Regions from separate parts of the Homo sapiens genome. Here regions 1 and 2 are each linked to region 3. Evidence: fine-mapped expression QTL. A gene starts in region 3. Each other region holds a variant in brackets. All regions are shown on one strand. Distances are between the middles of the regions. Region 1 has its middle 53 kb from the start of AKAP1-DT. Region 2 has its middle 19 kb from the start of TRIM25. Region 3 holds the start of SCPEP1 (serine carboxypeptidase 1).

What was found. PIP is the estimated chance that this variant, and not a neighbour inherited with it, causes the effect. A credible set is the group of variants that fine-mapping cannot tell apart.
Region 1: its variant is the best candidate, but not a certain one, in a credible set for the expression of SCPEP1 in gastroesophageal junction (GTEx, PIP 0.63).
Region 2: its variant is the best candidate, but not a certain one, in a credible set for the expression of SCPEP1 in blood mononuclear cells (TOPMed, PIP 0.66).

What each region holds. Positions count from the first base shown.
Region 1 is chr17:57,028,433-57,034,898 of GRCh38, reverse strand. No RefSeq gene overlaps it. Among named protein-coding and RNA genes, the nearest start is that of AKAP1-DT, 53 kb to the left of the region's middle. The variant G/CG (reference allele first, on the strand shown) is at 3,480.
Region 2 is chr17:56,929,408-56,935,873 of GRCh38, reverse strand. No RefSeq gene overlaps it. Among named protein-coding and RNA genes, the nearest start is that of TRIM25, 19 kb to the right of the region's middle. The variant C/T (reference allele first, on the strand shown) is at 2,887.
Region 3 is chr17:56,975,285-56,981,750 of GRCh38, reverse strand. SCPEP1 (serine carboxypeptidase 1) reads right to left here and starts at 3,620. Exons shown (of 13, transcript NM_021626.3): 1 at 3,516-3,620; 2 at 521-669. The coding sequence starts at 3,591. It overlaps LOC105371836 (a long non-coding RNA gene), which reads right to left. Exons shown (of 4, transcript XR_934875.4): 4 at 5,744-6,002. RefSeq lists a silencer at 3,678-3,737.

The DNA.
Region 1 (6,466 bases), 53 kb before region 3:
CAGTTTGGGGAAAAGAAGAAATCTTGCAGAAACTTGTCAGGACATATCACATGTAGGTTGGAAGAGGGACATTGACAGGGGCAATCTAGTCTAGGGTGAGTTCTGTATGCCAGAGGACACCAGACTAAGGTATGTCACTGATGATGCTATTTAATTCCAGAGGGAGTCAGTTGGATGCAGCTCTTGGTTTTGAGTCTGGCCCTAATGCTCTCAGCTGACAAATTCCTTTTTCTTCTTTTGAGGCAGGGTCTCACTGTCACCCAGGCTAGATGCAGCGGTGCCATCACAGCTCACGTGGTCCTCCCACCTCAGCCTCCCAAGTAATTAGGACTACAGGCATGCACCACCATACTTGGCTAATTTTTGTTTTTTTTTTTGTAGAGGCAGGGTTTCACCGTGTTGCCCAGGCTTGTCTATAACTCCTTGGCTCAAGCGATCCTCCCACCTTGGCCTCCCAAAGTGCTGGGATTCCAGGCATGAGCCACTGTGCCCAGCTTGGCTGACAAATTCTAATGGCAGAAAAGATCAAATACCAAGATTGCTTGTAAACATCACAGCAAAATATTGCACTTACTTCACTGCCCCCTGAAGTGACCACATTTTTCTTTTGTTTTGAGACAGGGTCTCACTCTGTCACCCAGGTTGCAGTGCAGTGGCATGATCATAGCTCACTGCAGCCTCAACTTCCTGGGCTCAAGTGATTCTCCCACCCCACACTCTTAAGTAACTGGAACTACAAGCATGCACCACCATGCCTGGCATTTTTTTTATTTTTATTTTTATTTTTATTTTTATTTGTAGAGATAGGATCTCACTATATTGCCCAGGCTGGTCTAGAACTCCTGGGCTCAAATGATCCTCCCACCTTGGCCTCCCAAAGTGCTGAGGTTACATGTCTGAGCCATTGTACCCAGTCAGTGACCACTTTTGAGAAACAAAAATACAAATTCCCAATCCTAACATATAGATCTGAGCCCCAAAGCATCTGTGTCTTCACCAGATTTGATTTACTTTAAGTACATTGTTTAAAAAAAATTAAAATAAATAGAGAGAGGGTCTCCCTATGTTGCCCAGGCTGGTCTTGAACTCCTGAGCTCAAGCGATCCTCCATGTTGGCCTCCCAAAGGGCTGGGATTACAGGTGCGAGCCACTGCATCTGGCTTTAACCAAGTACATTCGAACACATGTTCTTTTAATTTAGGGTTTTGGGGTTTTGTTTGTTTTTTTTTTTTCTTTGCTTTTTTACATTGGTATAGTTATTTTTAAATATTTTCTCAGCAGTTGCTTTTTCCTAATTCAGATGAAAACAGGGCCTGGCTTGGGCTTTAGCCAATTAAAACAGGCTATGCTTCTACGAGCAGAGTTAAATGTGTTCCCAGAGAGTTGCCAGTGCCACTTTATTTTTGGTTACAGTTCTCTCAAGAGGACCTTTTAATAGCTCTTGAAGTAGGGGCAGTAATCCTTGGAAACAAGACAAACCAGTTTTCTCCCCTCTACCCCACAACTCCTTTTTGCCTTTACACTTGAAGCAACTAAATTAGAAGTTGGACGTCACGAATCCTATAGTTTTACTTGAAATTTCCTGCTGCTGACACTAATGTTTTCTTTTCTGTTAGAATCAGGAACACTTAAAAAGTCAAACCTCCTCGTGACCTGATCTCAAAGTACATTTGAAATTTTTTTTTTTTTTTTTTTTTGAGACGGAGTTTTGCTCTTGTTGCCCAGGCTGGAGTGCAGTGGCACGGTCTCGGCTCACTGCAATCTCCGCCTCCCAGGTTCAAGTGATTCTCCTGCCTCACCCTCCTCCTGAGTAGCTGGGATTACAGGCACCTGCCAGCACACCCAGCTAATTTTTGTATTCTTAATAGAGACGGGGTTTGACCATGTTGGCCAGGCTGGTCTCGAACTCCTGACCTCAGGTGATCTGCCAGCTCGGCCTCCCAAAGTGTTGGGATTACAGGCATGAGCCACCGTGCCCGGCCTGTAATGTTTTTTTCCCATGGCAACATTTCTCAGCTACTCTGGGCTTATGAAGAAGAGTATAACAATGCCTGTCCCAGTTTTAAAACCACATTGTATTTAGTCAGAATTAGGCATGGCTGTAAGTGGTAGAAAACCCAAACCAACAGTAGCTTAAGACAAAAATTTATTTCCATGTAAAGAGAGAAAAGGAGTACAAAGGTGGAATGGTGGCTCCAGTCCTCAAAATCCTCGGGGACCTCGGCTCATTCTAGCATATCTTCCTACCATGATCCCAAATGGTTGCATTCACATTCCAGCCAGCAAAATAAAAGAGGGTGAAAGGGAACAAAAGGTACACCAAAGGGGACGGTTTCCAGCTGCTGCCAGAACACTTCTGTTTATATCCCGGTGGCCAGAACGTAGTCACGTGGCCACACTTAACTGCTGGGAAATGTAGTATTTTTTTTTTTTTTTCTGGATCGCTGTGTGCGCAGTTAAAAATTCTGCCTCTATGCTATACACCCTAGGGCCTATGGTCTTAAAATTTACCAATTTCTATCAATTTTGCCTTGAGAATTTGAAACACCTCTTGAGATTACTAAATAACAATATAAGGTGGTATAAAATCAGTATCAGAAATACCCCCACTCTTTATAATATTTATACAACATTTTACCAGAATTTTGCTTTTGGGAGTCCATAGTAATTAAATAACTCTAAAACCAGAAAAAGCTTTAAGCAAAATAATGTTCATCACAGTTATTTATAATCAGAAAAACTGAAATGACACTTTGAGAGGCCCAGGTGGGCGATTGCTAGAGCCCAGGAGTTTGAGATCAGTCTGGGCAACATGGTGAAACCCTGTCTCTACAAAAAAAATTTAAAAAATAAGCCAGGCATGGTGGTGCACACTTGTAATCCCAGCTACTTGGGAAGCTGAGGTGAGAAGATCACATGAGCCAGGGATGTCGAGGTTGCAGTGAGCCAAGATGGCACCACTGCACTCCAGCTGGGTGACAGAATGAGACCCTGTCTGAAAAAAAAAAAAAAAAAGAAAAGAAAAACTGAAATTTGAATAAATGTCAAAATATGGAGGACTGGTCAGATGAAGTGTAGAACATTTTCTTAATGGAATATTATGTATCTGTTAAAAAATGATATTTACAAGGCCAGACACAGTGGCTCAGGCCTGTAATCCCAGCCCTTCAGGAGGCCAAGGCAGGAGGGTCACTTGAGGCCAGGAGTTCAACACCAGTCTGGGAAACAAAATGAGACTTTGTCTCTACAAAAAATTGAAAAATTAGCGGGGTGTGGTGGTGGCACCTGTAGTCCCAGCTATGCAGGAGGCTGAGGCAGAAGGATCACTTGAGCACAGAGGTTCAAGGCTGCTGTGAGCTATGACCATACCACTGCACTCTGTTCTCCAGCTTGGACAACAGAGCAAGACCTTCTCTCTTTAAAAAAAAATTATACTGACAAAGAACCCACAGTAACATAGATAAATTCTTATAATGCCC[G/CG]TTAAATAAAAAATATAGGGATATGAATTAAGCCAAATGACTTTTTTGGGTAATGAGACTTTTAATAACTATTTTCCTACATTTCTTTATTTTCTAAATTTTGTTACTATTACACTTATTATTTTATTAGAAATAAAAAATATTGCTGGGCGTGGTGGCTCATGCCTGTAATCCCAGCACTTTGGGAGGCCAAGACGGGTGGATCACCTGAGGTTAGGAGTTTGAGACCGGCCTGGCCAACATGGTGAAAACTGTCTCTACTAAAAATATAACATTAGCTGGTTGTGGTGGCACATGCTTGTAATCCCAGCTACTCTGGAGGCTGGGGCAGAAGAATTGCTTGAACCCGGGAGGCAGAGGTTGCAGTGGACCGAGATGGCGCCATGGCACTCCAGCCTCGGCAACAAGAGTGAAACTCCATCACAAAGAAGGAAAAATAAAATAAAAAATATCCTATCCTCTAGTCTCTCTAGTTACCTACACTTTACCCATCTTTAGGTACCTACACTCTACCCATCTCTAGATACCTATACTCTACCCATCTCATAGAGCTCAGTTTAATCTGACCTCCTGTCCAAAAGCTTTTCTGGCCATTCCCTCTCTTCTGCATTATTGCTGACACCACTTGTAATGGGAAGTCATTTCTTTTTTTTTTTTTCTTTTTTTTTGGAGCGGGGGAAGAGCCTCACTTAGTTGTCCAGGCTGGAGTATAGTGGCATGATCGTGGCTCACTACCTTGACCTCCCAGGCTCAAGCGATTCTCCCACGTCAGCCTCCTTGAGTAGCTGGGACTATAGGTGCTCACCACCATGCCTGGCTAATTTTAAAAATTTTTTGTAGAAATGGGGTCTCCCTATGTTGCCCAGGCTGGTCTTGAACTCCTAGACTTAAGCAATCCACCTGCCTCAGCCTTCCAAAGTGTTGAGATTACAGATGTGAGCCACCGCGCCTGGCAAAACTCTTTTTTTTTTTTTGTCTTGCCAGCATCAGGCAGAATCCTCTGATGAGAAGCTATTGGGGCCTCAATGAGGTTATACCTTTCCTCTCTCTCCTCCTTGGTAGATACAGAGTAGTCCTGTAGACCCACTAATCAGATGCTCCAGCCCAGGAATTTGAATTGGTGGAAATAAATTTGTAGTCTACGTGGGCTTTGGATATTTGATGATACTAAGATATTTTTCACTTGGGGGGTAGTAGGGGAGTGATGATGGTATTATGGTTGTTTTTAAATTTTATTTTAAAAATGTAGGTGTTCAAGCCCAGCAGAAATGTCCTATCTCCCCATATATTGGAACCTAATTGCCTATGGGATAGTACTAAAGAAGTGGGGCTAGGGGCCAGGGGCAGTGGCTCACACCTGTAATCCCAGCACTTTGGGAGGCTGAGGCAGGTGGATCACCTGAGGTCGGGAGTTTGAGACCAGCCTGACCAACATGGAGAAAGCCCATCTCAACAAAAAATTAGCCAGGCATGGTGGAGCATGCTTGTAATCCCAGCTATTCTGGAGGCTGAGGCAGAAGAATCACTTGAACCCCAAAAGCAGAGGTTGTGGTGAGCTGAGATCGTGCCATTGCACTCCAGCCTGGGCAACAAGAGTGAAACTCCATCTCAAAAAAGAAAAAGAAAAAGAAATGGGACTGGCACAAGTGCCTCTTGCCTGTAATCTCAGCACTTTGGGCGGCCGAGGTGGGAGAATTGCTTGAAGCCAGAAACTTGAGACCAGCCTAGTCAAAATAGTGAGACCCTCTACAAAAAAATAATTAAAAAAAAAAAGAAATAGGGCCTTTAGGAGTGGTTAATGGGAGCGGAACCCTCATGAAAGGGCCCTCACCAGACACCAAACCTGCTGGCATCTTGATTTTGCACTTTCCAGACTCCAGAACTATGAGGAATAAATTTCTGTCATTTATAAATGCCCTAGTCTAAGGTAATTTTGTTATAGCAGCCGGAAAGAACTAAGACACTATGTAGCTTCAATGACACCAAACACAAGGCATTTAGAATAAAAAGGGTTTTCTTCTTCACAACGAAAGGAAAAACTCAGTACTTCACTTGTGACACCAGATGTGTGTGTGTAGCAGGGGTTCCTATACCAAGCAATTCTCCAATTCTCTGGAGATACCAGCTGGGTATCCTACAATTCAATTCAGTTCTGACATGATCTATCTGAAGTTAGTACCTACCCCACAGTCGGTTGCCAATCAAAAGTCCAGCTTGTCACCTGGTGCTTCTGACAGGCTATGAGTCAGAGGGTCCCATGATCCCTTTCTTGAGTTTAATCATTTGCTAAAACAGCTCACAGAACTCAGGTAATGTTTGTTAGTCCATTCTCACATTGCTATAAAGAAATACCTGATTGGGAGGCCGAGGTGGGCGGATCACGAGGTCAGGAGATCGAGACCATCCTGGCTAACACGGTGAAACCCCATCTCTACTAAAAATACAAAAAATTAGCCAGGCGTGGTGGTGGGCGCCTGTAGTCCCAGCACTTCGGGAGGCTGAGGCAGGAGAATGGCATAAACCCTGGAGGCAGAGCTTGCAATGAGCCGAGATCGCACCACTGCACTCCACCCTGGGCAACAGAGTGAGACTCCGTCTCAAAAAAAAAAAAAAAAAGAAATACCTGAGACTGGGTAATGTGTAAAGAAAAGAGGTTTAATTGGCTCATGGTTCTGCATGTTATACAGGTAGCATGGTGCTGGCATCTGCTCGGCTTCTTGGGAGGCCTCAGGAAACTTACAGTCATGGTGAAGGTGAAGGGGGAGCAGGCACCTCACATGGCCAGAGCAGGAGCAAGAGAGAGACTGAGGTGCTGTGAGAGGTGTTTGAACCAGAACGACTCCATCTTGAATAGGGACTGGATGAAATAAGGCTGAGACCTTCTGGGCTGCATTCCCAGGAGGTTAAGGCATTCTTAGTCAGAGGATGAGACAGGAGGTCAGCACGAGACACAGGTCATAAAGACCTTTCTGATAAAACAGGTTGCA
Region 2 (6,466 bases), 46 kb after region 3:
AGTGCTTATGTATTCTTATGAAGGTGTGTCTCTAAGGGTCAAGACTTAATAATGTTAATAATTGTTACTCTATCAAGGATATTAAGGGCAGTTGGCTTTGCCCCTTACTATGAGTGCGTGGCCCAGTGGTGCCACTCACTAGCAGATTTATGCTGAAGTGCAGCAGTTCATTCCGTATTGGTTTTGCTCCATCAGAGCAAACATCAATGCTGTGAAAAGACAACATAATCATAGTAGCTTTGACCTTGCAGATCCCTAAAAGGGTCTTGAGGGCAAGAGTCCATAGACCACACTTGGAGAACCACTGACATCGTGGAAAGAAAACAGGTTTTGAAGTCAGATTTGGGTCCACATCTGAGCCAGGTTACCTAGGGTGAGTGTCTTCATTTGCAGCATGGGCCTAACCCATGCTCAGACTTATAGTGAAAAATTAAAATCATGCTAGACTAGACCCTGGCACACAGCAGATGTGCAGAAGTATTGATCTACTCTTAAGCCTCTAATCAGACTCAAAAGAGGGTGATTAATAAAGTTCAACTCATTAATATTCAGAAAAAGAATAATGACTGAGTTATTAGCATGGGGTATTCTTATGATGGATTCATTTCACTTTGCAAAAGTTATATATATTTTGAGACAGAGTCTTGCTCTGTCACCCAGGCTGGAGTGCAGTGGCACGGTTTCAGCTCACTGCAACCTCCGCCTCCCAGGCTCAAGCGATTTTGATGCCTCAGCCTCCTGAGCAGCTGGGACTACAGGTGTGCGCCATTGCACCTGGCTTTTTTTTGTATTTGTAGTAGAGACCAGGTTTCACTATGTTGGCCAGGCTGGTCTGCAACTCCTGGCCTCAAGTGATCTGCTCACTTCGGCCTCCCAAAGTGCTTGGATTACAGATATGAGCCACCGCACCCAGCCTGCAAAAGTTACATTAATTTAATCAAAAGGGTATTTGCATCCTGCCTCAAATAGTTGTTCACTCTAAAGGTTCACAGCCTAAATATAAGAGTGCAATCAACACCCAGTGCATGAAACAACCAGGTGTACCCATGAGAATGTGATAGCCATGAGAATATGTCTCTCCCGTGTTCTTTTTTTTTTTTAATTAAATGACTTAAGGATCTACTGCTGGGATCTCCCGTGTTCTGATGGACTCAATGAGGAAATAATGCAGTGGTCTAAACAGTGAGTCTCAACTGGAATTTAGGCACCCGATCTTATGGCCATTGGAAGGTCTTATAATGTTAAAACCAGAAGCCACCTTCCAAATAAAGAAGCCCCACCCTCCACTTTACTTCTGAGACAACAGACTCAAGAGGAGATGACATCACAGAGATGGTGAGTGGTTAGAATGTGGCTGCCACAGTGATGACCCAGGTGCAAATTCTGCTTTGGTCTTAGTCACTTCACCTTAGGCAAGTTCTAACCCCTCTAAGCCTCAATTTCCTCATCAATGTACCCACCAACAGTAGTGTGGTGAGGACGGAATGAGATGATGCATGCAAAGCAGTTAGCACAAGACCTTGTACATCGTTAAGTGCGCATGAGATGTTATTATTTATGTTTCTATTTTGTGACTTGCCTAAGGTCCTGCTCCAAATTTTCAGCAGAACTTGCATCCCATCCTTTTAAATTTATTTTCATCTGTTACAAACAATGTGTGCCACATTTCATGTAGCTGCCATATTTAAACTCTAGTTACATCTTTGGGTAGGAGGAAATCAGTCACCTATTTCTCATCAGAGATACTTTTATCTTGTAGGGCTTGGAAGATTTCTGCTGACTACATTCATCCATTGTCTCCTAACCGTTGTGTCTTCTGATGTTGAATTGACATAGCTTTCTTCCCACTGCTCTAGCCACTTAAAACAAATGATCCCACTTTCAAAGAGGTTATATTAAGACAACAGCAGCTGGGTGTGGTGGCTCATGCCTGTAACCCTAGCACTTTGGGAAGTCAAGGTGGGCAGATCACTGAGGTCAGGAGTATGAGGCCAGCCTGGCCAACATGGCAAAACCCTGTCTCTATCTACTAAAAATACAAAAATTATCTGGGCATGGTGGCGGGTGCCTGTAATCCCAGCTACTCGGGAGGCTGAGGCAGGAGAATTGCTTGAACCTGGGAGGCGGAGGTTGCAGTGAGCTGAGATGGCACCACCGTGGTCCAGCCTGGGCGACAGAGTGAGACTGTCACAAAAACAAAACAAAAAAACCCAACCCAGTTTTGTGGGGTTATTAAATTGAACAGGAGAGAGAAGTCATTCACAGATGGATTAGTGAGAGATTACAGGAAAATAAGCACAGTGAAACCCCAGAGGAATGCAGTTGGGATATAGTGGGAATGGTGTTTGCCTCCTGTCTTCTGCAGATGCTCGCCTCAATCATTTTATTAACCTTGCAGTAACACAAACCCACATGATAAGGGACCAGATTTAGAGACACCATTTACAGGGTTTTGGCAGGGTTTCATCATATAAAATGTGGCAATTAGATCACGCCACTGCACTCCAGCCTGGTGACAGAGCGAAACTCGGTCTCAAAAAAAAAAAATTGGCAATTAAGGTAATGTCTGGACAGGGTGCAGTGGCTCATGCCTGTAATTCCAACACTGGGAGACTGAGGTGGGAGGATTGCTGGAGGCCAGGTATTCCAGACCAGCCTGGGCACATAGCGAGACCGCATCTCTACAGAAAAATAGAAACAAATTAGCTGGGCTTGGTGGTGTGTGCCTATAATTTCAGCTACTCAGGAGGCTGCAGTGGGAGGATCACTTGAGCCCAAGAGGTCAAGGCTGCAGTGAGCTATGATTGCACCACTGCACTCCAGCCTAAATGACAGAGCAAAGACTGTCTTGAAAAAATAAAATAAAATAATGATATTTGTAGGGTA[C/T]ATTGGGGTAAGCAGAGCTGTAGAGCTCAAAGTCTTGGAATGCAGGTAATGTGAGCCATTTGAGCATACCAGTGCTTTGCAACAGAGCAGTTGGTTTAGGGGCAAGGAATTAGTAGTTTAGGACCAGAATGCCCTGACCAGCCCTGACTATCCCTACCATCATGTTGGCCTGGCCACCATCAGCATAGGAGAAGCCATCACTGCCACTGTGGCCCCAGATGGAGACCCACAGCTGGAGACAAGAAAATTATCACAAGGAAGCTTTGGAGAGTAGAAATGACAGTAGCTATGTGCCAGCTGTTTTTCCAAGCACTTTACAGGTATTAATTCATTTACATAACTTAGGAGATAGGTACTGTTATTTTCTCCCTTTCACAGAAGAGGAAACTGAGGCACAGAGGTTAAACTCCTTGCCTATGAATACAGTGAATGAAAGAGCCTGATTCAAACACAGGTTGTCTTCTCCAGAACTTGTACTCAACCACTATGTCCCATAAAGAAACAGGTGCAGAATTAAGTGAAAAAGTAAATTATAGCACATTATATACTTACAGAGTTTATTTCTCATTTGAATTTTAAAAGGAAGCTCCTTGGGTGTGGTGGTATGCCTGTAGTCCTAGCTACTTGGGAGGCTGAGGTGGGAGAATCACTTGAGCCTGGGAGGTTGAGGCTGCAGTGAGCTGTCACCATGTCACTGCACTTCAGCCTGAGTGACAAGAGTGAGACTTTTTCCAAAAAAAAAAAAAGGCTCCTGATGTAGGATATGGATAAAAATGTTCTGGAAGGACATGCATGAAACGTAATAATAGTCACTGACTGCTCTGCAGAGGGACTGATGGGTAAGGAGCTGCTGCTTTTTTTTTTTTGAGACATCCGGGCTGGAGTGCAGTGGCACTATCTCGGCTCACTGCAACCTCTGCCTCCCAGGTTCATGCGATTCTCCTGCCTCAGCCTCCTGAATAGCTAAGATTACAGGCATGCACCACCACGCTTGACTAATTTTTGTATTTTTAGTAGAAATAGGGTTTCACCACATTGGCCAGGCTGGTCATGAACTCTTGACCTCAAGTGGTCCACACGCCTCAGCCTCCCAAAGTGCTGGAATTACAGGCAAGAGCCACTGTGCCTGGCCATACAACTTTACAAAAGCACAGCTTAGTTTTTATTGACTCCAAATTATGAAAAATGGGGAAAAAGGAAAAATAATGGAAACATTATTTTGAAGAGTTGTAGCTAAGAAAAATTAGAATTCAGTCCAAACTGTAAAAAATAATAAAAATGAAAAATATTAGGCAAGATTAGAATCTAGCAACATGTGTACTATAGTTTTTGAAACAATTTTTCTCTCTCCAGTTTCCCATTTTTACTAAAGACAGATCATTATGGGACTGATTTGCATTATTATACTTGGCCTAATTATTTGTATATAGTGCAGCAAGGATAATTTTTTTTTACATAGGCTTTTAAATTGGCTTTGATGGAACTTTGTTCCATAGAAGGAATCTCAGATAAGACTTTTTAAAAGCTGAACGTGGCCATGGATTTGTACCATCAAATACCTATGAGTTGGGTGATTCCTCTCCTCTTGTGGTTCCAAGATAAACTTGGTGCTCCTGGGCCTGTCAGAAAGTGACATTCTTTACTTATCACAGGTCAGAAACCCTGTACAGGAACTGTAGACAAAGGTATGAGGCCAGTTTTTCCAAGGGGTTCCTACTGGCTCTATAAGTCAAGTTTGATTCCTTAAAGCACACCATTCCAGTCAAAGCCTTAGTAAAATAACTAGTTTCTCCAGTTGTGTCCTGTTACAAATTAAAACAGATTCTTATTGCACTTATGCAAATAACTGTATTGTCATAAGTTAAGAACACTCACAGTTTCCAAATTATGTAGAAATCAGGTAGAGAGAAACAAATAGACTCCAAATTTTGTTCATGGGTGCATACTCAATTGTTAAAAGCTGTAAATAGCTTAAAAGAAAAGTTTTCTTCATTCTGAAAAACGAAACAAAGGATCAGCAACACTTTAAGCAAAAAGTTAAAAAGATTACTTCAGACTTCTATTAGTTTAGTCTATGCAGTGAATTCCTGTTCTGCGTGATATTCATGAACATTTAAGCTCTCCATGAGTACTGAAAGTTTTTCCTTAATTCTGATGTCACAATCTCCAAAGTTATCAGAAACCTGCATTCAAGAGCACCTATTAGAGTTTTATAGCTGATTATAAAACCACCTTCTAAAGAGGACCAAAACAAGACAAAAATTGTCTGTGGATGACAAAAAGTTTTAGTGCAGCCATAGTCAAAGACACAATTGACAGGAAATCTGTCACTTCTGTGGCACGTAATACTTTAATGTAACAATTATTACTGATAACATACATTAAGTCATATCAGTATTATAGGAGTTTCCCATAATTTTGGAACATATATGACTAACATATTTATACAAATACAGCCCAAAGAAAACCAAACACCATTTCATATTTGTCAATGCTTCCTGTATAATTTTTATACCAAGTAAGCCAAATATGTCATTTTTGGACTTTAGGGAACCTATTAATATCTTAAAGAGTTACTTAGGTCAGAAAGAGATAATTTATCATTTAATTTTGGAAACTTTGTCAAATACCAAAAGTTTAAAACACTTGATATTACAAAATAGGATCCCAGGCCATTGTAAAATAAGTCATTCATTTAACCAAAGTAATAATTCAAAGATTTTTTAAAAAGGCAAAAACCTTCATTCTTTGAGACAGGAGACTTAATTTTCCAAATGATAAGCCCTAATAAAAACGGCATGAAGACAATTAAATTTTTTTCCAAAATTTTATAAGCAATCTATAAAATTTTTATCTTGACCATAAGATATAACTTCCATAAACCTTTATAACCTTTAATAAGGAGTTGGTTAATGCTTCAAGAAAACCTTGTTAATTTGACACAGGGGCCCATATGCTGGTCTTGCATCAGTGTGCCTTTGACATTAATGATTAATTTATAGAGAAACTGAACTTATTTTATCTCTCAAAATCAGCCCTTACAATCTCACATGCCCACCTCTTCTGCAATAGTCCCTGGGCCTTGAGGAGTTGAATAGCTTTAATTTCTGGCCCTGTGTCTCAGGAATGCAGTTTGTTTTGATTAGCATCTTCTATTGGGCCTGAAGATGAGGCTTTAATTGCTGCCAGTATTTAAGATTTAGCAAGACTTGGTGTTCTTTTTGGACCCAGGAGTCAAAGCCCTGTAACTCAATGTCACAAGTACTTTAAAAGGGCATACAGAGAGATACACAGATGTAATAACCTTAATTTAAACAAATTTTATTCTCAATTTTTTCCCTAAGCAAACCAAAGCTTAATAATAATATGACAACTTGATCATATAAACTTTTTTTTGTTTTTATAAATCCTCTTATTGTGATTTATACAGACCATTCATGACATGCTTGGACTTTCTGGTTTGTCTTGAACATCCCTTTCTTAAACAACCAGTTATTTTACTTTAGGACTAAATTTACCACACAAGATTCTTTCTCATATGAAATTATTTCTCTTTAAGCTTTTTTAAATGATTACCAAA
Region 3 (6,466 bases):
TCCCGGGTCCAAGCAATTCTCATGCCTCAACCATCTGAGTAGCTGGGATTATAGGTATGTGCTACCATGCCTGGATAATTTTTGTATTAAATATTTTTAGTAGAGACAGCGTTTCACTATGTCGGCCAGCCTGGTCTCGAACTCCTGGCCTCGTATGATCCACCCACCTCGGCCTCCCAAAGTTCTGGGATTACAGACATGAGCCACTGTGCCCGGCCTCAAAACACTTTCTATCACTATGTATTCAAATGTATCATCAGGAGTTTTCAGTGAGCCTTCTTGTGACCGTCTGGAAATATAAAGAGACTCTGGCAAAAGGCTAGAACCCCCTCGCCCTCTGATTTAGCCTCCTTGGCTATACCATTGCCTCAGCCTACCTCAGAAGCACGCCGAACCCCCAGGTCACACTGCTGGACCAAATCCGCCCTTCACTGCTGAGACATCAGCCCAAAAAGCAAGCAAAGAGCCACACAGAGGAGACTTGGCTTTGACCTCAGGCCAGGCTGGGAAGCTACTTTACCTGAAGCCACATGACCAGGGGCAGTTCTGAGAAGTTCTTGCAGGAGTTGGTGGCATAATAGAGCCACCAGAACATGTAGGCATCCTTGCGGACCGTCACATAATCCCATACTTCCTTGCCCTCCTCTGTGGGCCAGTCAATGACAGCTCCTGAAACAGAAGTTCAATTTCACTCTCCAGAAGAGTGCCTAATGTACAGGTAAATTCCAAGCCTGGTAGAGACAGCCATGCTAGGCTAGAGATGATTTGTTTTATAGTTTGGTAATTTAGCCACCCCAGTACATTGCAGGAATAAGGAAAAAACCTCGGCTATGAAAAAAGAAACCAAACTTAACAGCGGCATAGGAGGCCAGGGGCTTTCACTTTTTCCTCTACACTTTTCTGTAATGTTTGGATTTTTAACAATAAATATGAAACACTTTTTTTTTTTTTTTTTTTTTTTTGATACGAAGTCTCGCTCTTGTTGCCCAGGCTGGAATGCAATGGCGCAATCTCGGCTCACCGCAACCTCTGCCTTCCGGGTTCAAGCGATTCTCCTGCCTCAGCCTTCCAAGTAGCTAGGATTACAGGCATGCACCACCACGCCTGGCTAATTTTGTATTTTTAGTAGAGATGGGGTTTCTCCATGTTGGTCAGGCTGGTCTCGCACTCCTGACCTCAGGTGATCTGCCCGCCTAGGCCTACCAAAGTGCTGGGATTACAGGAAATACTTTTATAATTCTGTAAAAACAAGAGAGATTTATATTTTGAGTAAAAAAGTAAAAATCTCAGAATGCAATATACTGGTTTTTATATCGTATTTAATACATGAGTAAGACACCAGGCTTGGTGGCTCACTCCTGTAATCCCAACACTTTGGAAGGCCAAGACAGGCTGATAGCTTGTGCATAGGAGTTCAAAACCAGTCTAAGCAACATAGCAACACCCCATCTCTACAAAAAATGCAAAAATTAGCTGGGCATTGTGGCATATGCCTGTGGTCCCAGCTACTCAGGAGACAGAGGTAGGAGAATCGCTTGAGCCCAGTAGGTTGAGGCTGCAGTGAGCTGTGATCACACCAGTGCACTCCAGCCTAGGTGACAGAGGGAGATCCTATCTCAAAAAAACAAAAAACCAACCAACCAAACAAACAAAAAACATGAGTGAAGAGGCATCACAAATTAGTGGGGCTGAGAATATTCAATATACAGTAATGGAGCAACAATTACCTTTTTTGGAGAAAAAAAGAGAAATTTAGGTCCTCTCAACACTATAAACGAAATAAGTTCCATGAGGATCAAGCAATTAAATTTTAAACTTTAAACATTAAAAAAATACAAAAATATAGTTAAATATATTTCTAATGTCTGGATGAGGAAAGAATCTAAGCAAACCCCAGAGACTGTACAAAAGAAACAATGATGGAGGTGAGAACAGAAACTTGTTATATTTCTATACAACAAAATTTCTGTAAATCAAAAATAAAAAGGCAAACAGCAAGGAAAGAGCTACAACAAATATGAAAAAGGGCAATTTTCCTAACTCATGTAGATGATTTTTTTAAACTGAACGATATATATCTGTGTATGTGTGTTTAATATACGTATCCTATAATCCCCTAACTCCAATTTTCCTTACTTAACTTTTCTAGCATCCACAAAATATGTTTTAGAAAAGAGTAGGCTAAATACATTTTCTTTGTCACTTTTTGCTAACGTAACAATTTCCAAGTTATAGCATCTTTTTTTTTTTCCTCCAAAACCACTCTGGGAAAAAAAAAAGTAGAGGGGCTGTTGTTAAAAGATGATGGGGGGGATCCCCTCGGTGACTGGAGTTTTCTGCCTTCTATTTCCTCCCTTCTCAAATTTCAAGCCCCATTGGTCAGTAAAAGAACACTGGTCCCAACAGCTAAAGAGACAGGAGTAGAGAGGAAGACAATGAGACAACGTCTTGTAAATAAGAAAGAGCCAGGGTGGTGGCCTGTGTCTGCAGTCCGGGCTACTTGGGATGCTGAAGTAGGAAGATCACTTGAGTCAGGCAGTTCCAGACCAGCCTGGGCAACATAGTGAGACCCTGACTCAAAACAAAACAACAATGAAGATTAAGAAAACCAGAAAGTGTCCTGAGGAGCAAAACAGATGACTAAAACATTACAGACTTAGCTATAAGGTTCTATATACAAGTAACACACGATTATATTGTCCTTGACAATAACAGATAAGGCTGCGCTCCCTTGAGAATGACAGATAAGGCGCAGGTACCTTTTGACCTAACCCCAGGCACTTCTCCCTTGCCTGGCAGTGACTACTGGTAAAATTGGCAGAGCTACTTATTTTACAAAATCTCCCAGACACTCGCCTAAGGGCCAGATGATCCCCATTTTAGAAAAGGAAAACAAAACTGTTCAACAACTTGCCTAAGGTCACAAGGCAAGCTTGTGGCCAGTTCCAATTCTCAGTGCTTGCTTCAGACTAGGAGAGGTTTTGCTGAAAATCAATTTGCAAGTCATCCTATTAAACACAAATCTGTTTTTTGCCAAAAAAGATCGCTGTGGGGGAAGATGTTATCTTGTTTGTTTTGATCAAGAAAAGAAAGGGCCTTATCTCAATGAAATGTCCCATTCGTGGTAGGATGTAAGGGTACTTTTGACCGCAGATTTCAGCTTAAAATAAAACGACCTTATATCCTCATTTAGCAGCCAATCATGGCCTTTGAATCGGGGAAACCTCATTGACCAGCAGTTTCCCCAAATCATACATTTCTGCACACAGCTTCTATCTAGGCGTAGGAGAGAACGGAAGCACTCAGACCACCCAGAGCCAGAAAAGGACAAAAAAAGCACTTTGAATTTTTTAAGGAAAAAAAAAAAAAAGAGTGAGATTCAAAAGCAATATAATTACACAAGGTAAGAACCGGGGAAAAGAGACATGTTTTCAAAAGCACAAACCCAGTAACAAACTCTCACGCCTGGAGAAAAAAGAGGCATGGCAGCTGGTGCGCCTCTTGCTTGAACCTACCTGCGTTCAGGCCCAGCAGCAGCGGCAGCAGCAGCAACCACCGCGGGACGGGAGAGCGCCGCAGTGCCAGCTCCATGACAAGTACCGCACGGCAGCATCAGCAACAGGCTGGACCCGGCGCCCCATCACGTGACGGAGGCGGACGGGGCGGGTCGGGGGCGGGGCCTGCGGGTCGGGGGCGGGGCCTGAATGGGCATGGGGCGGGGCCTGGGCGGACCCGGCAGCTTGCTGAGACCCGCACGCCCTCTGCCCGGCAAGCCCACCAGGACCCCTGCAAATGCGCAGGGGCCGTTCTGTCCGCCTGGCCAGGTTCTCTGTCATTTTAGGGAGAGTATTTCGGAAAGGAGACATTTGATGCAGATGTTGGATTTAGGTTGTGTGACCGGATCGAAATACTAAAGGGAATAACCACCGCCCTTTCTACCCCTCCCATCTCTTCCTTCCCTCAGCAAAAGAACCGACGTTTTCCAACACTGCTACATCTGCGAAGTCAGATTAAGCCAGCTGGTCGTTGGCAAACAGCGGGGTTTCATTTTCAGATATGTATTTTTTAAATTATTTTTCTTTTAAAGTTATGTATGTTATAAACGTTTTGGAAATATGAACAAAAAAGTTATACATAACTATTGTTGGCATTTTTTCCCATAGTCTTTTACGTCATTTTAAAAAACACTAATAAAGATTTTTATTTTTTTTTTCTTTTTTGATAATTTGTCATTAGTATTACTCTGTGTTACGTTATCTTCACAGCAGTCATTTTAAAGAGAGAATCGAGGGTCTGGGGACGGGAAAGGAAGAAAAAGTGGATGACAGAGCTGTTTTCCTCTGTGTGTGTGTGTGTGTGTGTGTGTGTGTCTGTCTGTCTGTCTGAAGGTCATTTTTACGTTAGAGGGTACTGAATAACTCACCTCACAGCTAGGAGACAAGCTACAGCAGGGGCTGTAGGAGAGGCTACTTCTAAATACTGCTTCAAAAGTACATGTAACAAAAAGCAAAAAACAAATCAAAGTACATGTGGCCACTTCTCCTCTTTCCCTGCTCCTTTCTCCCTCCCCTCGCCCTTGACCCCCATAAATGGAAGTGCTTTTTACTCTGCAGCCATTGTCTGGACAGAGCCTTGACCCCGCCCTGCCTGTGAGGTGCCCCTGCACTGAAAGCTGCGGCAGAGAAAAATATGCCGCCGGGTTCTGTCATGCTTTAAGCATGGGATGGTCCCGAATGCATAAAATCCATAATGCCTGGGCAACATATTGAGACCCCCTCTCTACAAAAAATAACAAAAATTAACTGATGTGGTGACACGCGCCTGCTGTCCAAGCTACTCAGAAGGCTGAGGTGGGAGGATCACTTGAGCCCAGGAGCTCCAGGCTGCAGTGAGCAGGTGTTCCATGCCATATGGGAGATACATAAAAGTACATGCTTAGTTAAAAATAAATAACTATCTAGCAAACTTTTCCTGTCTGAAGCTTCCAAGTTGGTCTGTATCACTAGGGCTTGAAATACACTTACCCTTCCACTGCAGTCAGAATTTTAGGGTTTCAATTTTTTTGCCACAAAAATAACACTACAGCCCAGGGCGCAAGGTGGCTCACACCTGTAATCCCAGCACTTTGGGAGGCCGAGGTGGGCAGATTACTTGAGGTCGGGGGTTTGAGACCAGCCTGGCCAACATAGTGAAACCCCATTTCTACAAAAATACAAAAATTAGCTGGGTGTGGTGGCACTTGCTTGTGGTCTTAACTACTCGGGAGGCTAAGGCATGAGAATCGCTTGAACCCAGGAGGTGGAGGTTGCAGTGAGCCAAGATGGTGCCACTGCACTCCAGCCTGGGTGACAGAGTAAGACCCCATCTCACACACGCACAAAAAAATTGTGCATTTTATAATACGCTAATATGACTTCAAAAGGAAAAAATATAAATAAAATGTCACCTCTAGTTAATGATATTCATATTAAAGTGTTTAGGGGAAGGTGTACCAATGTATACAATTTTCTTTGAAATGTATCCAGATGCTGGCACAGTGACCTATGCCTGTAATCCAGCTCTTTGGGAGACCAAGGTGGGATGATTGATTGAGCCTAGAAGTTTGAGACCAGCCTGGACAATATAGTGAGACCATGTCTCTTAAAAAAAAAAAAAGTATCCAGAATATAAGATGGATTGATGGATAGGATGGAAAGAAGGTTGGATACATGGATAAATACATGATATCAAGTATTACAGTAACATTTTCTTTTTTCATTACAGTTTATAATCACAGGAACAAAATAAACAAAAACCACATGTAGAAACCAGATTAAAGCTTGTTATCCTTACAGGCAGTGGCGAAATTCCAATCTTCAGGGTTGGAGTGGTCTTTGTTTAAGAAAAATACCTCCTTGGTTCATTGAAGTTAGGAGTTGGGAGCTGATGGCATAGTAGCTGCAGCCAAGGCAACAAAAGATAATTGCCAAACTGTGCGGCCCAGGAGAAATTTTGTTTTGCTCCTAGGAGAGGAAAGAAGAGAGAAAGATGAAAAGAAGTGAAGGCTACATATAGAGAAAGATTAGCCAAAGAGAGTTGAGGCTGGAAGAAGAGCCAGTAGAAATTTCTCCGATGAGGAGTGGCTATGTAATCCCCCAATGGGTTCTTTTTGCCTGCTGCCCAGATAGAGCCAGCCAATTTATGAAGGCAGGGGAATTGCAATGGGGAAACAGTTTAATTCATGCAGAGCTGGCTGAAAGGAAGACTGGAGTTTTATAATTACTCAAATCAGTCTCTGAGGAGTAGTTTCAAAGACAGTTTAGGGGTAGGAGCAGAGGTGGCTAGGCAATGGATGCTTGCTGCTGATTGGTTGGGTTGGAGATGAAATCACAGGGAGTTGAAGCTGTCTTCTTGCGCGGATTTGCTTCCAGGTGGGGCCGCAGGAGCAGTTGGTAGGTCCAGGTGGAGCCAGGTGTCAGACATGCAA